Linked DNA regions of Homo sapiens. The protein of the gene in region 2 interacts with the protein of the main gene of each other region in a biochemical or structural test. Each region holds a gene or a part of one and is shown on either strand. Other genes may lie near its edges.

Region 1 (6,835 bases), on a different chromosome or scaffold from region 2:
ATCAGTAATCACAGCCAGGGAGCAGTACTTCCTCCGCCTCTTTATCTAAAAGAATATGGAATACTGAGGGGATTAACTCAAACTCTTAATTCTACTTTTGGAGCCTCTTCAGCTTTGGTTTAAATTTCAATGACTCAGTTTTGCTGTCAATTTACTGGGGTCTTGGATGAGTCACAGCCTCCACTTTCCCCTCTCTGGACCTTAGTCTCCGCCAGTGTAAAATGAAGGGGATGGGCTGGAACAGCATTAGCATTACCCGGGAACTCAACAGAAATTCACATTCTAGGCCGGACACGGTGGTCATGCCTGTAATCCCAGTACTTTGGGAGGCTGAGGTGGGTGGGTCACCTGTTCAGGTTTGAGACCAGCCTGGCCAACATGGAGAAACCCCATCTCTATTAAAAATACAAAATTAGTCGGGTGTGGCGGAGCGTGCCTGTAATCCCGGCTACCTTGGGAGGCTGAGGCAGGAGAATCGCTTGAACCCGGGAGGCGGAAGTTGCAGTGAGCCAAGATGGTGCCATTGCACCCCAGCCTGGGCAACAAGAGCGAAACGCAGTCTCAAAAAAAAAAAAAAAAAAAAAAGAAAAAGAAAAAGAAAAAGAAAAAAAAAGAAATTCACATTCTAGAGTCCCACCGCAGACCTGGAGAGTCAGAAACTCTGGGGTTGGGGCCCCGACATTATTTAACAAGCCCTCCTAGGAATTCTGATGAGAACCACTGGGTTAGAAGATCCCCAAGGTAAGGCTCTTTTACCTGCAAAATTCCATTTGTGCTTTAAGGTATTATGATTTAGTAGCATTCTCTTTGCACAGAAGTATTTCTTGCCCAAGAAAGGCAACGCTTCAAGGTAAGAAGAGAAGTTTGCTTTGATTAGCTGAAATCCAGAACCCAGGTGAGCTTTTCCAGAAAGCCTTAAGAGTATGTGGCTGACTTTGAAGCCAGGTCTTTTATTTACTTGTTTATTTTTAAGTAGTAAGTCTTAAACTTGGCATGTGATAAAAGCAGTGGTTTCTGTAGTCAGAGAAATATAGATGAGAGGAGAGCTGCCTTCTCTTTTCAGCTCCAAAAAACCATGACTCACTGTGGGGTGGGTGTGTGTCCGGGGAGGGCAGGGGTCCTTTGAGAGGGCAGTTCCTCTCCCTGGTTCAGGAGCTTCCTGGTGTGTAAATCCTGGACTGCCACCTCCCCCTTGGAGAGCATTGATTACAAAACCTCGGAAGAGCCACCGACAGCCACGGTGGCGATTACAACACAGAGCCGGGTCGACAAGCTTTCGTGAGGTTTCGCAAGACACTAAGAATGGAAAATATGTCTCATCTTAAAGTTTTCCCAGTCTGGACTTAAGACGAAAAGTCGTCATCAAAAAAGATGAAGAGTAATTTCACGGTAATGCGATGGTTTCTTCATGCAAGAATGCGGAACACCCAAACCATCCTCCGGAGAAGTGTGGCTGTTTGGGTGAAGGCATGTCGGTTCTCATGGTGTTGGTGCCCAAGAATGAGCACCTATGAGATCTACTGCCAAGCGATTTCCAGGGATTCCTAACCTTCACTTGGTGATCTCAGGAACAACGTGTGTGTGTAAATACATATAATATATATGTATGTGTATGTATATGTATGTTTGTATGTGTATATTTTTATATATATGTGTGCGTGTGTGTGTGTGTATGTGTATGTGTTTCAAGAGATGGGCTCTCCCTGCGTCGTCCAGGCTGGAGTACAGTGGCGCCATCAGGGCTCACTGCAGCCCTGACCTCCCAGATCCAATAAATCCTCCCAGCTCTGCCTACCGAGTGGCTGGGTGCACAGGCACGCACCACCACGCCCGGCTAATTTCTGTATTTTTTTTTTTTTTTTTTTTTGTAGAGACGGGGTCTCGCCATGTTGCCCAGGCTGGTCTCGAACTCCTGGGCTCAAGCGATCTGCCCGCCTTGGCCTCCCAAAGTGCTGGGATTACAGGCGGGAGCCACCGTGCCCAGCCCAGTGATAATAAATATTACAACTGTTTTTTTTTATATGGCACTGGCCATGTACCAGGCATTGTTCTAAGTATTTCACATTTATTAAGGAATTTAATCTTCACAACAAGCCCACGGAGGTGGGGACCATTATTGCCCGCCAACTACAGGTGAGGAAACCTCGGCCCAGGGAGGCTGCGTCACAGAACTGTGAGTATCCTGTCACCAGGGTGCAGAGAACCACGGACCAGCAGACAGGCGCCAGGTGCCCTGGGCTTGGCTTGGCCCGAGTTCCCGGCTGCCCCACCTACGGAGCACCGAGATGGGCTGACCAGGAGGGTTTGTCCGACCACTGTCTGCTCAGGTTCTGAGAGTCTGTGCGGGTCCATTTGAGGTTGGGTCGAGAAAAGAGCCCAGGCGGACACGTCCTGAGACCCGGGTCTGTGAGGCCTGGCCGCGGGCTGTCCGGCGCTGGGCCCCTCTGGCCAGTTGGCCCCAAGACGCCAAGCCCGGGGCTTCGCGGTCCTGGGAGAAGGGACTTCTAGCCCTTCTCAGGTGTCTGTGTCCGGAGGGCCCGGTGAGCCAGGAAGGAGCTGGCCAGAGCCCAGGCGGCGGGACCCAGCAGAGTGGCCCAGCCACTGCCAACCACGCAGTCCCTTTAACCACGAAAACTTTCTCCCTCGATTGGGGACCCCAGCAGACGCACATTGGCTGCGCCGTGGGCATCCGGACCCACCCTCTCTCCTTACCTACTGGCTGTCATATACATCTATCACAAGCCAAGGCTTCCTAATGGCCCAAGTTCTTGTCAATCAAGAGTGGGAGGAAAGCTGGGCGGAGCCAGGTCGGAGAGCTACACGCCAGCCTCCTTGCCCTCCCTGCCTCCGTGACTAGGCACCCGGAGGCTTCCCAGGGGACCGAAGCTGGGTGCGGAGCACCGGGGCGGAGCTGTGGGGGGCTCCAGGGACTCACCGATGCGCTGTCCCACTGGAGAGCTGAACGGGTTCCCCAGGAGAAAGTCCATTGCTGCTACCGCCGCTGCCACCAACCCCGGGAATCAGCTGACAGCAACCGCCAGCGCCACCGACCCGTCACGTGACGCACTCGGAGGCCGGCGAGGAGGCGTGGGCGGGGCGGTGGCACCGCGAAGCTCGACCACAAGCCCCGCCCTGAGACGCCAGGGTCCCGCCCCCGAGGCGGAGGGCGATGACCTCACTGCGGCTTGCTCGGCGGCGGCGGGCGTCACACACGATGTAGGGTCTGGGGTCGGGGCCCGGGAAGCGCGGTCCTCTTTAAGCCACGCCCCTGACCTTTTAGGGCGAGGTCTAAAGGACCCTTTACACATTTGGGAAACTGGGTCGTAGACCAGGGAAGTGACTTGGGTGAGTTACACAGAAGCCGAGACTCTTAGGGTCATAGCCCTTAGTCCTTGGGACCTCACTGTGACTGCACACCTACCCTGGGTGACAGCCTCTCTGGGCTGTTGTCTCCTTGTCCCGGTAAGACTCTTCCTGTTTGATGTCAAGGTCTCCCCGCTCCAAGATGCACCCTGCTCGCAGCCCAAATTATCTTACCTTAAATCAGAGGCAAGGGCAAGGGGTTTGTCATCTGTTGAGACTGAGAGGCAATTTAATGAATTGCAGCGCAATTCCCTCTAGCGCCCAGGATGGCAAAAAGCACAGATGTAGTCACGAGTGGGGCTTTAATACCCGTCTCTGCCATAAATTTACTGTGTGAGCCAAACATAGCTCCCATTTTCTCTAGATACTGGAATTAGATCAAGGACTCGTAACCATTTTTAAAAAATATTTTATTTAGGTCACAGTCTCCTTTGAGAATTTGACAAAAGCCATGAGCCTTTCTGAAGAAAAAAGGCAGCGATACAATTTTGCTTATAACCTCAGGGAGTTTCTGGGGTCCCTGAAGTACAACCGTGGACCCCAAGCTAAGAATCTCAAAGGCCTTTCCCAGCGTTGTGATTCTAATCTCTTCAGCCTTCCTGGCTGTGTGTGGTGTGTCTGCTGACACCTACACACTAGATACCTATCTATGGGTTATGACCTTTTCTTCTGGCATGTACTCCAAAAATACAATAACCATGGCCTTAGTAGTCTGGCTACTGTGGGTGCTTAAGTACTTATTGTGATGTTTGTGGTTTTTAAATCTGAAAGGCTAGTAAATTGACTGCACAAATTTTGGATGACAGAAAACCTAAATTAAGCAAGGTGTGGTGGCTCACGCCTGTAATCCCAACATTTTGGGAGGCTGAGGCAGGTGGATCACCTGAGGTCAGGCATTCAAAACAAGCCTAGCCAACATGGTAAAATGCCGTCTCTACTAAAAATACAAAAATTAGCCAGGTGTGGTGGTACACGCCTGTAGTCCCAGCTACTTGGGAGGCTGAGGCATGAGAATTGCTTGGACCCAGGGGGGCAGAGATTGCAGTGAGCTGAGATCGTGCCACTGCACTCCAGCCTGGGTGACAGAGTAAGGCTGTGTCTTAAAAAAAAAAACAAACCTAAATTAGAACTTAATCACCTCTGTAGATTCACTTGTTTGAGCAGCCATGGGGTCCGATGTCTTTACTGTACAATATAAAAACTGCTTTGAAGTGTTTCCACAACACTCATGAGACCTGTTCACAAATGCCTTTGCCCCCACGAGTCTGGATGTCCCTGGGGGCTGGGCTACTATTTCTGTTTTGCTCCCCACTATTGTCTAACCCAGTAACTAGCACATGAAAGCTTAAATAGATCTACGTTTCAGTAATGGTATTTGGAGTATAAGCGGGGAGAAGGCCATTTAAGATGACCTTCAGGTCAAGGCACTTTCCATGTCTTTCTTCACTTAACCTTATTGCTTGGTCATATGGAGTTATGTTTAGCATGAACTTCTTTTGGATTCTTCCATTAACCTTTATTTATTTATTTTTAGAGGCAAAGTCTCACTATGTTGCCCAGGCTGGTCCTTGAACTTCTGAGCTCAAGTGATCCTCCCACCTCAGCCTCCCAAAGCCCTGGGTTACAGGCATGAGCCACCATCTCTGGCCCTTCCTTTAAGCTTTTAACAAGTTCTTGTAAACTTTATTCATGGTAAAAAAAAAAAAAAAAAAAAACAAAAAAAAACAAAAACAGAGACAACTCATATGCCCCCAAACAGGAAGTGGAATCATAAACTCCATGCAGGCTGGGCACGGTGGCTCACACCTGTAATCACAGCACTTTGGGAGACCCAGGCAGGCAGATCACGAAGTCAGGAGATCAAGACCATCCTGGCTAACACGGTGAAACCCCATCTCTACTAAAAAAATAGAAAAAATTAGCTGGGCGTGGTGGTGGGCGCCGTGGTGGGCGCCTGTAGTCCCAGCTACTCGGGAGGCTGAGGCAGGAGAATGGCGTGAACCTGGTAGGCGGAGCTTGCAGTGAGCAGAGATTGCACCACTGCACTCCAGCCTGGGAGACAGAGCGAGACTCCGTCTCAAAAAAAAAAAGAAAAACAACTCCATGCAAACTGATTACTATATAGCTATTGAAACAGAAATGGAAGTATATGGATTTATTTATTTATTTATTTTTAAAGACAGAGTCTCTGTCACCCAGGCTGGCGTACAGTGGTACAACTGTAGCTCACCGTAGCCCTGATCTCCTGGGCTCAAGTGTCTTCCCACTTCAGCCTCTTGAGTAGGTGGGACTGCAGATGCATGCCACCATACCTGGCTAATATCTTTTAGTTTTTGTAGAGATGGGGTTTTGCTATATTCTCCAGGCTGGTCTCAAACACCTGGCCACAAATGATCCTCCTGACTTAGTCTCCCAAAGTGCTGGGATTACAGACACGAGCCACTGCACCTGGCCAGTATATGGATTTTATCAACATAGTAGATAGGGATGTAAATGGCAAACATTAAAGTTAGTACAAAACTGATTAAAACTGTCTTTAAAAAGTGTGCTAATAAGGAGCAAACTGATTTAGTAAAAAGTGTTTCAATTTACTTTTTAAGTGTTTTAGTAAAATTAATATCATGCCTTACTGAGGGTTAAAATGTTCAAATTTCTTAAGATTGACAGTCTGCATAAATGTAATCTATTAAATCCTTTAAGTGCTTACAGACAAAAATCAAGATACCTTGCCTTCAAAATTTAAAGACAATAGTATGACAAGAGTGAAAGCCAGCTAGATACCCGAACAATGCAAAGATCTGAGACAGCATTCCCACAATCACATTCGCTCAGGACTTGAGATAATGGAAAGCATTCTGATGAATTATAGACATGATTTAAATCTGAAAGTAGCTTGGGGTAGAAAAGAGCCTAGGGTTTGGGGTCAGCTGTTTCACTGTTCTTAATCTGCCTTTGCCATTTACTAGCAGTATAAACTTAGGAAAAGTACTTTTTCGCATCTATAAAGGGAGATAATATTCTTAAGGCTTTGGGCGGAGGATGAGTGAGACAAAGTATGCAAATCACTCTAATAGTCACTCAGTGATACGGTAGTCTCTTCCTTGCTGCCTTTCCATAAGACATTAGCCTTGTAATTAATCATATTATTTTACTATTTATGACTTTTAACACCTTGTGTTTGCACTGAAGTTTTTACCTTGAAAGGTCATATCTCCATATATTCAGTGTTCATAATGTTATTAAACATTCATGTCAGGCTGGCTGGCTGCAGGTCTACAGACAGGGAAGTGACTTTAACACTATTCTATAGATGGGACTTTGGAAGCCTATAAAGATTAAGTAACTTATCAACAGCATTACTGTAATGCTAACAGGACAGTACTGAAACATATCATTTAGCACATGATTCAGATGCAACCCTTATATAAGATTAATCAACATTTTCTTGATTTAGGCCAACACCATAATGCAC
Region 2 (6,883 bases):
GTTAATTCAGAGGGGCTGGGGTGGGTCATGCTCAGCGAAGCAGGCTGGTGCCAAGGCGGGCCCTGCCTTGCGTGTGCCAGGCAACACTTTACAGAGTGCTGCGCTGAGCCGGTAAACTCCAGGGCAAGTCCAGTCCTCCTGTGCCCAGGACCCTCCGGCGGCCTCCAGCTCCTGCCTCCCTCCATCCTCGGCCCCTGGGGCTCCCTCCTCTCCACCTCCAGACCCCACACCTCTCTTTCCGTGCCCTGCCCTCCCAGCCCAACCCCTACTCCCATTCCTCCTCCGAGAGATGTCACGTCCTCACCCCAACACCCAGCCCTGGTGAGGCCCATTTACAAACTCTCCCAGCACCTGACGCTTAAGATCACAGACCCACCGGGCCGTCACCACACAGCTCAGCTGTCCTTATGTGCTGCCATGTCTACCGTGCTGCCCTGGAAGACCCCAGTGGCAGGAACCACCTGGTTGTCCCCTGCATCATGGCCATCCTGAACGCCACAGTTGGTAGCGCTGGTTGATTAAGTCACATGTACTCCAAGCAACACCTGAGACCCCCGTCGCTGACAACACCTTCTTAAGAGACCCTGGCAGCTCCGAGCCAGACCTCATGTTACTATGCGTTTACCGGTCAACGGGGGTGCCCCTGAAATACCTGCTCGTCTACATGATGGAAACAGCCCAGGAGGCACTGGGCAAGAGGAGATTCTAACGACACCTCAGCACTTGCCAGCACAGGCCCTGCGTGTGAGAACATCTCCTGCCGCTCCCACTTCCTCATCGCGGGTGTAACAGCGCTGCACGCCGGTGCCCCTCAGAACAGGAAGGGCCTGCCTCCCACTGCTCCCTGCCTGCTCAGCACCTGATGCATTCAAAATCAGTCCTACACCCCAGTGGGGTTCCAGATGAGGAACAAGTTCCCAGGAGGCAGAGGATGTCTCCCAGACCACACAGCAAGGAAGGGGCCATCCTGCCTGGCCACCATGCCCCCCTGCTCTCCAGGAGGACACAACAGCAGGGTGCTGGTTCCCTTGTTGCTCTGAGTCTCCTGTTAGGCAGAAAGGAGCACTTGGCTGCCACGGCAACTTGCGGGGACTCACTGTGGTGGAGTAAAGATGAAGAGGTAGAGACGCTGCCATCAGAGGCCGTCCAGGACCTCTGCCGACCCGTAGGCTCCACACCTGAGTCTCATAAGTGTCAGGAGGTTTCCTTCAAAGTCCTCAGAAAAAGCAGCTATGCCCAAAACCTGGGGCTTCATTCTAAACTCAGAAAAAATGTTCTACCTGAAGAATTATCTCCTCGGGAGAAACACCAGGACTTGTGGATACAGTGTTAAGGGTGGGGAGCCCTGGTGACCCCTCCACCACGTCCAGTACTGGGCTGCGCGAGGGCAGGGACCTTGGAGCATCGTGAAAAAGGACTTTTTCCACCCACGGCATGTTCAGAGCCACTGTTGATAAAAACTGTACCGCTCACGACAGCCTGCCCCAGCCCAGCCTCAGTGAGTGACACGGTTTGAATCTGTGTCCCCGCCAAATCTCACGCTGAATTATGATCCCCAATGTTGGAGGTGGGGCCTGGCAGGGTGGGTGTGTGGGTCACAGGGACAGATCCCTCGTGGCTTGGTGCTGTCCCGGTGATAGTGAGTTCTCACAAGATCTGGTCATTACAGTGTGTGGCACCTCCCCACCCCCAACTCTCTTGCTGCTTTCGCCATGTGACGTGTAAGCTCCCACTTGGCCTTCCGCCATGACTGGGAGCTTCCAGAGGCCTCCCCAGGAGCAGATGCCGGCACCATGCTACCTGTACAGCCTGCAGAACCGGGAGCCAATTAAATCTCTTTTCTTACAAATTACCCAGTCTCGGTATTCCTTTACAGCAATGCAAGAAGGCCCTAACAGTGAGCCAGGAGGCCACTCACGCCAGGAGCCCATCATCTCTGAGTCAGTCTACACCAGCTCTCCTGCAATATTAATGCTATAGAAGAAACTGCCAGGCAACTCTCAGGAGAGAATTCAGAGCAGGAAAGGTTCTCTGAAGTTCCTGGCGCCTATCCTCTCATTTGCAAATGAAGAAACTGAGGTTTTGCACGGTGGCCACTAACCGGGGACACAATTGGGCCCAAGAAGTGGTCACCACTGCCCTCACTCTGTGTAAATGAGAAAGAGGAAACAGCCATCATCTATGGGACCAACTAGAGTGCAGGCCCGCCTCCACCTGGGGGGCCATCAGGGTGCGGGACCCGCCTCCACCTGGGGGGGCCATCAGGGTGCGGGGCCCGCCTCCATCTAGGGTGCCATCAGGGTGCGGGACCCGCCTCCACCTGGGGGGCCATCAGGGAGCAGGGCCCGCATCCATCTAGGGGACCATTAGGGTTCAGGGCCCGCCTCCACCTGGGGGACCATTAGGGTGCGGGGCCCTCCTCCATTCGGGAGTCAGAGCTCGGGGCCGCCTCCATCTGGGCACCGGGCCCTCCTCCATCTGGAGACCATTGGGGAGCGGGGCCTGCCTCCCTCTGGGGCACCATGGGGCACGGGGCCCGCCTCCATCTGGGGCTCACAACGGGCGCAGGCCCCCTCCCCCGGGGCTGCCTCCCCAAAGCTCTGCCCCGGCACGGCGGTGAGCTCAAGCCTCCTGCAGCGTGGGCGCGTCCGTCCGGCCCGCCCCGCCCCGAGGTGTGGACGCCGCCGCTCCCCTCCGGCCGGCCAGGCGCCCCGCGTGCCCCGGGAGAGCCGCGGAGTCGGCCCGCCAGCCGCAGCTGAGCAGTAGCCCTGACCCAAGGCCCCGCCCGCAACCGCAGGTCACCGCCCCCGCCCGACCCTCGCCCGGCTGCCTCACCGGCCCGCGCTGAGTGCTGACGGTGGTCGCCATGGTGCTGCGGCGGCCCCCGTGGCTCGCCGACCCGACAGTGACGCGCCGGGCGACCTCCTGCGCCCCCGCCGGAGCCTGCGACGGAGACAGTTGTCACCTCGAGGCCGCCGCCGCCACAGTCAGCTGACAGCCGCCGCGCCCCGCCCCCGGCACCGCCCCACTGCGCAGGCGCCGCGCCAGGCACCGCCCCTTCCGGCTCTCGCGCGCACGCGCGCTCCAGGGTAGGGCAGGCGCAGCCTCTCGCCCGGCGCCTGCGCACCTGCTCTCTCCTCGAGCCCTGCAGCCCGGCGAAATGGCTCCCGGCGGGGCCGTTTGCGCATGCCCAGTCATGACGGTTGTCGGCGCGGGCCCTAGCGTGGCGGCGCTGCAGTCTGGGCAGTGGGTTGGTTCCTCCTCGGTCCTCTGTCGAGTGGCGACAGGGCCTAGCCACCTGGCGGGGGTGACCTTCGGACGTGCGACCCGCTCGGAGAAGGGAGGGAACTGTGGCCCGCAACAAAGCAGTGACAGGCCCGACATCCCCTGCAGGGCGATCTTTCCCTCAGCTGCCTGCCGGAGGAAGGGCCTTTCTGTTTCACAGGGCTAAAGATGGGGCGCGGTTCCTCCACGGGGCGGCTGCCGGGTGAACGGAACGGGGATGGAGGCGCTGCCAGAAGAGCCCGAGCTCGAGCCCGCCCTGCCCTCGGCCTCCCCGCCGCGCCGCTCCGCAGGAGCCCCGCTCCTCTCCTGCTCGCTCCGGAGAACCCCAGTCCGGCCTGACCTCGGCCCTCGCGGTCAGGCGCTCCAACCAGAGCGACTCCAGCTCGAACAGCGCTGGGTAAACTGAGGCTGAACCCCGCTGGCTGCATCCCCAGGAGTCGGGCGTTTACGGTCACGGGAACAGGTTAATAAACTTTTACGCAGCAGACCCGGAACTTAGGTCCCGATGTCCGGGTATCTTAAGAACAAGAAGCATTCTTAGTTGAAGTTTCGCTTTAAAGATAATGATACAGATGCTTGCGGAGGACAGGCGTTATGCAAAGATTGGCAATCCTTTGACGAGCCCAGGTAGTACAGCACGTCTCCCCCGTGATGTTTTTTGGCTTTTATCTTACATATAAACAAGCGTACCCAGGTGGACGCCTTCCTCCTCGTGCTTTTGGGAACACCCTGCTCTATGGAGTAGCCATTCTTTTATTCCTTCACTGCCTTAATAAACTTGCTTTCACTTTACTCTGTGGACTGGCCTGGAATTCTTTCTTCCACAAGATCCACGAATCCTCTTTTGGGGTCTGGATCAGGACCCTTTTCCGGTAACACAACCACTCCACTAAAAACTCTTTGTCAGTGATCTCTATATTGTTAGTGGTCAGTTCTCAGTCCTCGTCCTCCGGGAACTACAGCAAAATCGATAGTCATTCTTGCTACACATGCTTTCTTCACTCCCCATCCAGGACACCATGTGCTCTCACTTTCCTCTTATCCCAAAGACCACATCTTTGGGTCTCGGTTACCAGTCTCTCCTTTTAAAACCGGCAGCCTGGCCGCTTGCCTGTTTTGATGGGGTGTAGAGAAAAAGAACGAAAGCCCCTTCCTCAAGTTGTAGCTTAACATCCAGCCAATCCACAGCACAAGACCCAAGAAGCTATTAACCACAAGTTCCTGCTTTGGGGGCCTAGGGACTTCCCCGGGCCCCACATGTGCAGTTAGACTTATACTTCAACTATTGTTACCCCTTCCTCATTTTCACGCTAAAAATCACACCTAGGGGTAGAGATTTAAAATGTGAATGTTGCATGCAATGCATGAAGAAGCATGCAAAGCTACTGAGAAGCACTAGACAAACCCCTCCTATCCATGCCTGGACCAATCCCTTCCCTGTGAAACTAACCCACGTGCCACCCCCTGGCGGCGGGGCCCCCCACCGTTTTCCTTTCATGGTGCTGACTTCCTTGTGCACAAGCTAAATAAAGATTTCTCTTTCTCCTCGCTGCTATGTCTGCTGATCTCTCTTTATTTCTATCCTGGGAGATTACAAGATGCCAGGGCACACTGGTAACACTTTGACTCCTTAACATCGGAGTGCCTTACCTCAGGGCTCAGTCCTTGCACATCTTTTCTATCTACATCCTCAGTGAGCTCATCCAGTTCCATTCCTTTAAATGCCATCCATATGCTGATGATCCTAAAATCTGTATCTCCCACCAGGACCTCCGCTAAACACTAGATTCAGCTCTTGCCTTAATATTATTCCCCTATGGGGTGGACAGGTTGTAAGGTAGACATATGATCCCTGCCTCCTGGTGTTCACATCCTTGAATAATCCTCTTGTCTTGAGGGTGGACAGAGCCTGTGGCTTGCTTTTAAACAACAGAATATGGCAGTGGTGATGGGATGTCCCTCCCATGATTACCTGATGTTATAAAAGACTCCATCTTGCTCTCAGACTTATTCTCAAGGGTCTCTCAGCTGCTGGCTTTGAAGAGGCGAGGTGCCATAATTCCTACAACTTCAAGGAAACAAATTCTGCCAGGAATCTGAGGGGGCTTTGATCCTTCCCCAGTCAAGCCTCCAGATGAGAATGCAACCCAGCTGACAACTTAATTATAGCCTCGTAAGACCCAAGAATAAGCCAGCTAAGCTGTGCCTGAACTCCTACCCCACAAAAACTCTGAGATAAGTGTGTGTTGTTTTAAGCCACTAAGCTTACAGCCACGTGATCTGACTTAAGCATTATTAGAATTCCAGAAGAAAAAAGGAGAATGAGGCAGAAAATCTGAAGAAATAATGGCCAATAATTCTCCAAGTTAATGGTAGGCACCAAACAAAATATTTAGGAAGCAATGGATTCCAAACAAATAAACAAAACACTTAGTCAGGTCATATTCACACTGCTGATAACAGAAAGCAAGGAGAAACTCTTAAAAGCAGACAGAGGAAAATGACACATTACATCCAGAAGAATGAAGATTAGAATAGCAGACTTCTCATTGGAAAGAAGGTAAGTCATGTGAATGGAGTGACATCTTTAAAGTGCTAACAGAAAAAAAATTATATGTCAATTGAAATTTCTTGCAAAATGATATGGCGATGTATTTCAGAACAGTGGTTATCTATGTGTGTTGGAAGTGAGGGACTGGAGATTGACTAGACAGGACCATGAGGGAACTTTCTGGGGTGGTAGAAAGATTATATACCTTGATTGGGATGGAGTGGTTATACCAATGTGTAAATTTATCAAAACTCACATGATTGTAAACTTATGATTTGTGCATTCTGATGTATGTATGTAAGTTTTATCTCAATAAAAGGTTAATGACAAAAAGAAAACACTTTCAATATATATGACAGAGTTAGTCTAAATGTATTAAGAGTGCCTACAAATTTCTAAAAAGAAGACATACAGGCTGGGCGTGGTGGCTCATGCCTGTAATCCCAACACTTTGGGAGGCCAAGGTAGGTGGATCACTTGAGGTCATGAGTTCAAGACCAGCCTGGCCAACATGGTGAAACCCTGTCTCTTCTAAAAATACAAAAAAAAAAAAAAAAAAATAGCCTGGCGTGGTGGCACATGCCTGTAATCCCAGCTACTTGGGAGGCTAAGGAAGGAGAATTGCTTGAACCTGGCAGGCAGAGGTTGCAGTGAGCTGAGATCATGCCACTGCACTCCAGCCTGGGCGACAGAGCAAGACTCTTTCTCAAAAAAAAAAAAAAATGTCTATTCATGTCCTTTGCCCACTTTTAAGTGGGATTTTTTGATTTTTTACTGTTGAGTTGTTTGTATATTCTGGATATTAGTCCCTTGTTGGATGAATACTTCGCAAATATTTTCTCCCATTCAGCAGGTTGTCTCCTCACTCTGCTGATAATTCCCTTTGCTGTGCAGAAACTTTTTAGTTTAATATAGTCCCATTTGTCTATTTTGTTTTTATTGCCTGTGCTTTTAAGATCTTAGCCATAAAATCTTCGCCTAGACCAGTGTCCTTAAGTGTTTTTCCTGTGTTTTCTTCTAGTAGTTTTATACTTTCAGGTCTTACTT

Evidence for each region. Proteins that work in one complex are often made in the same cells at the same time.
Region 1: the proteins of TOLLIP (region 2) and TOM1 form a complex in vitro, tested with the Homo sapiens proteins (3 studies listed by BioGRID and IntAct, with this or other methods).

Annotation. Positions count from the first base shown.
Region 1 is NC_000022.11:35,296,081-35,302,915, reverse strand, and holds the start of TOM1 (target of Myb1 membrane trafficking protein), read right to left. Parts: upstream 3,023-6,835; 5' UTR 2,988-3,022; coding exon 2,936-2,987; intron 1-2,935.
Region 2 is NC_000011.10:1,306,631-1,313,513, forward strand, and holds the start of TOLLIP (toll-interacting protein), read right to left. Parts: upstream 3,003-6,883; 5' UTR 2,869-3,002; coding exon 2,836-2,868; intron 1-2,835. UniProt on the Homo sapiens protein: Component of the signaling pathway of IL-1 and Toll-like receptors. Inhibits cell activation by microbial products. Recruits IRAK1 to the IL-1 receptor complex. Inhibits IRAK1 phosphorylation and kinase activity.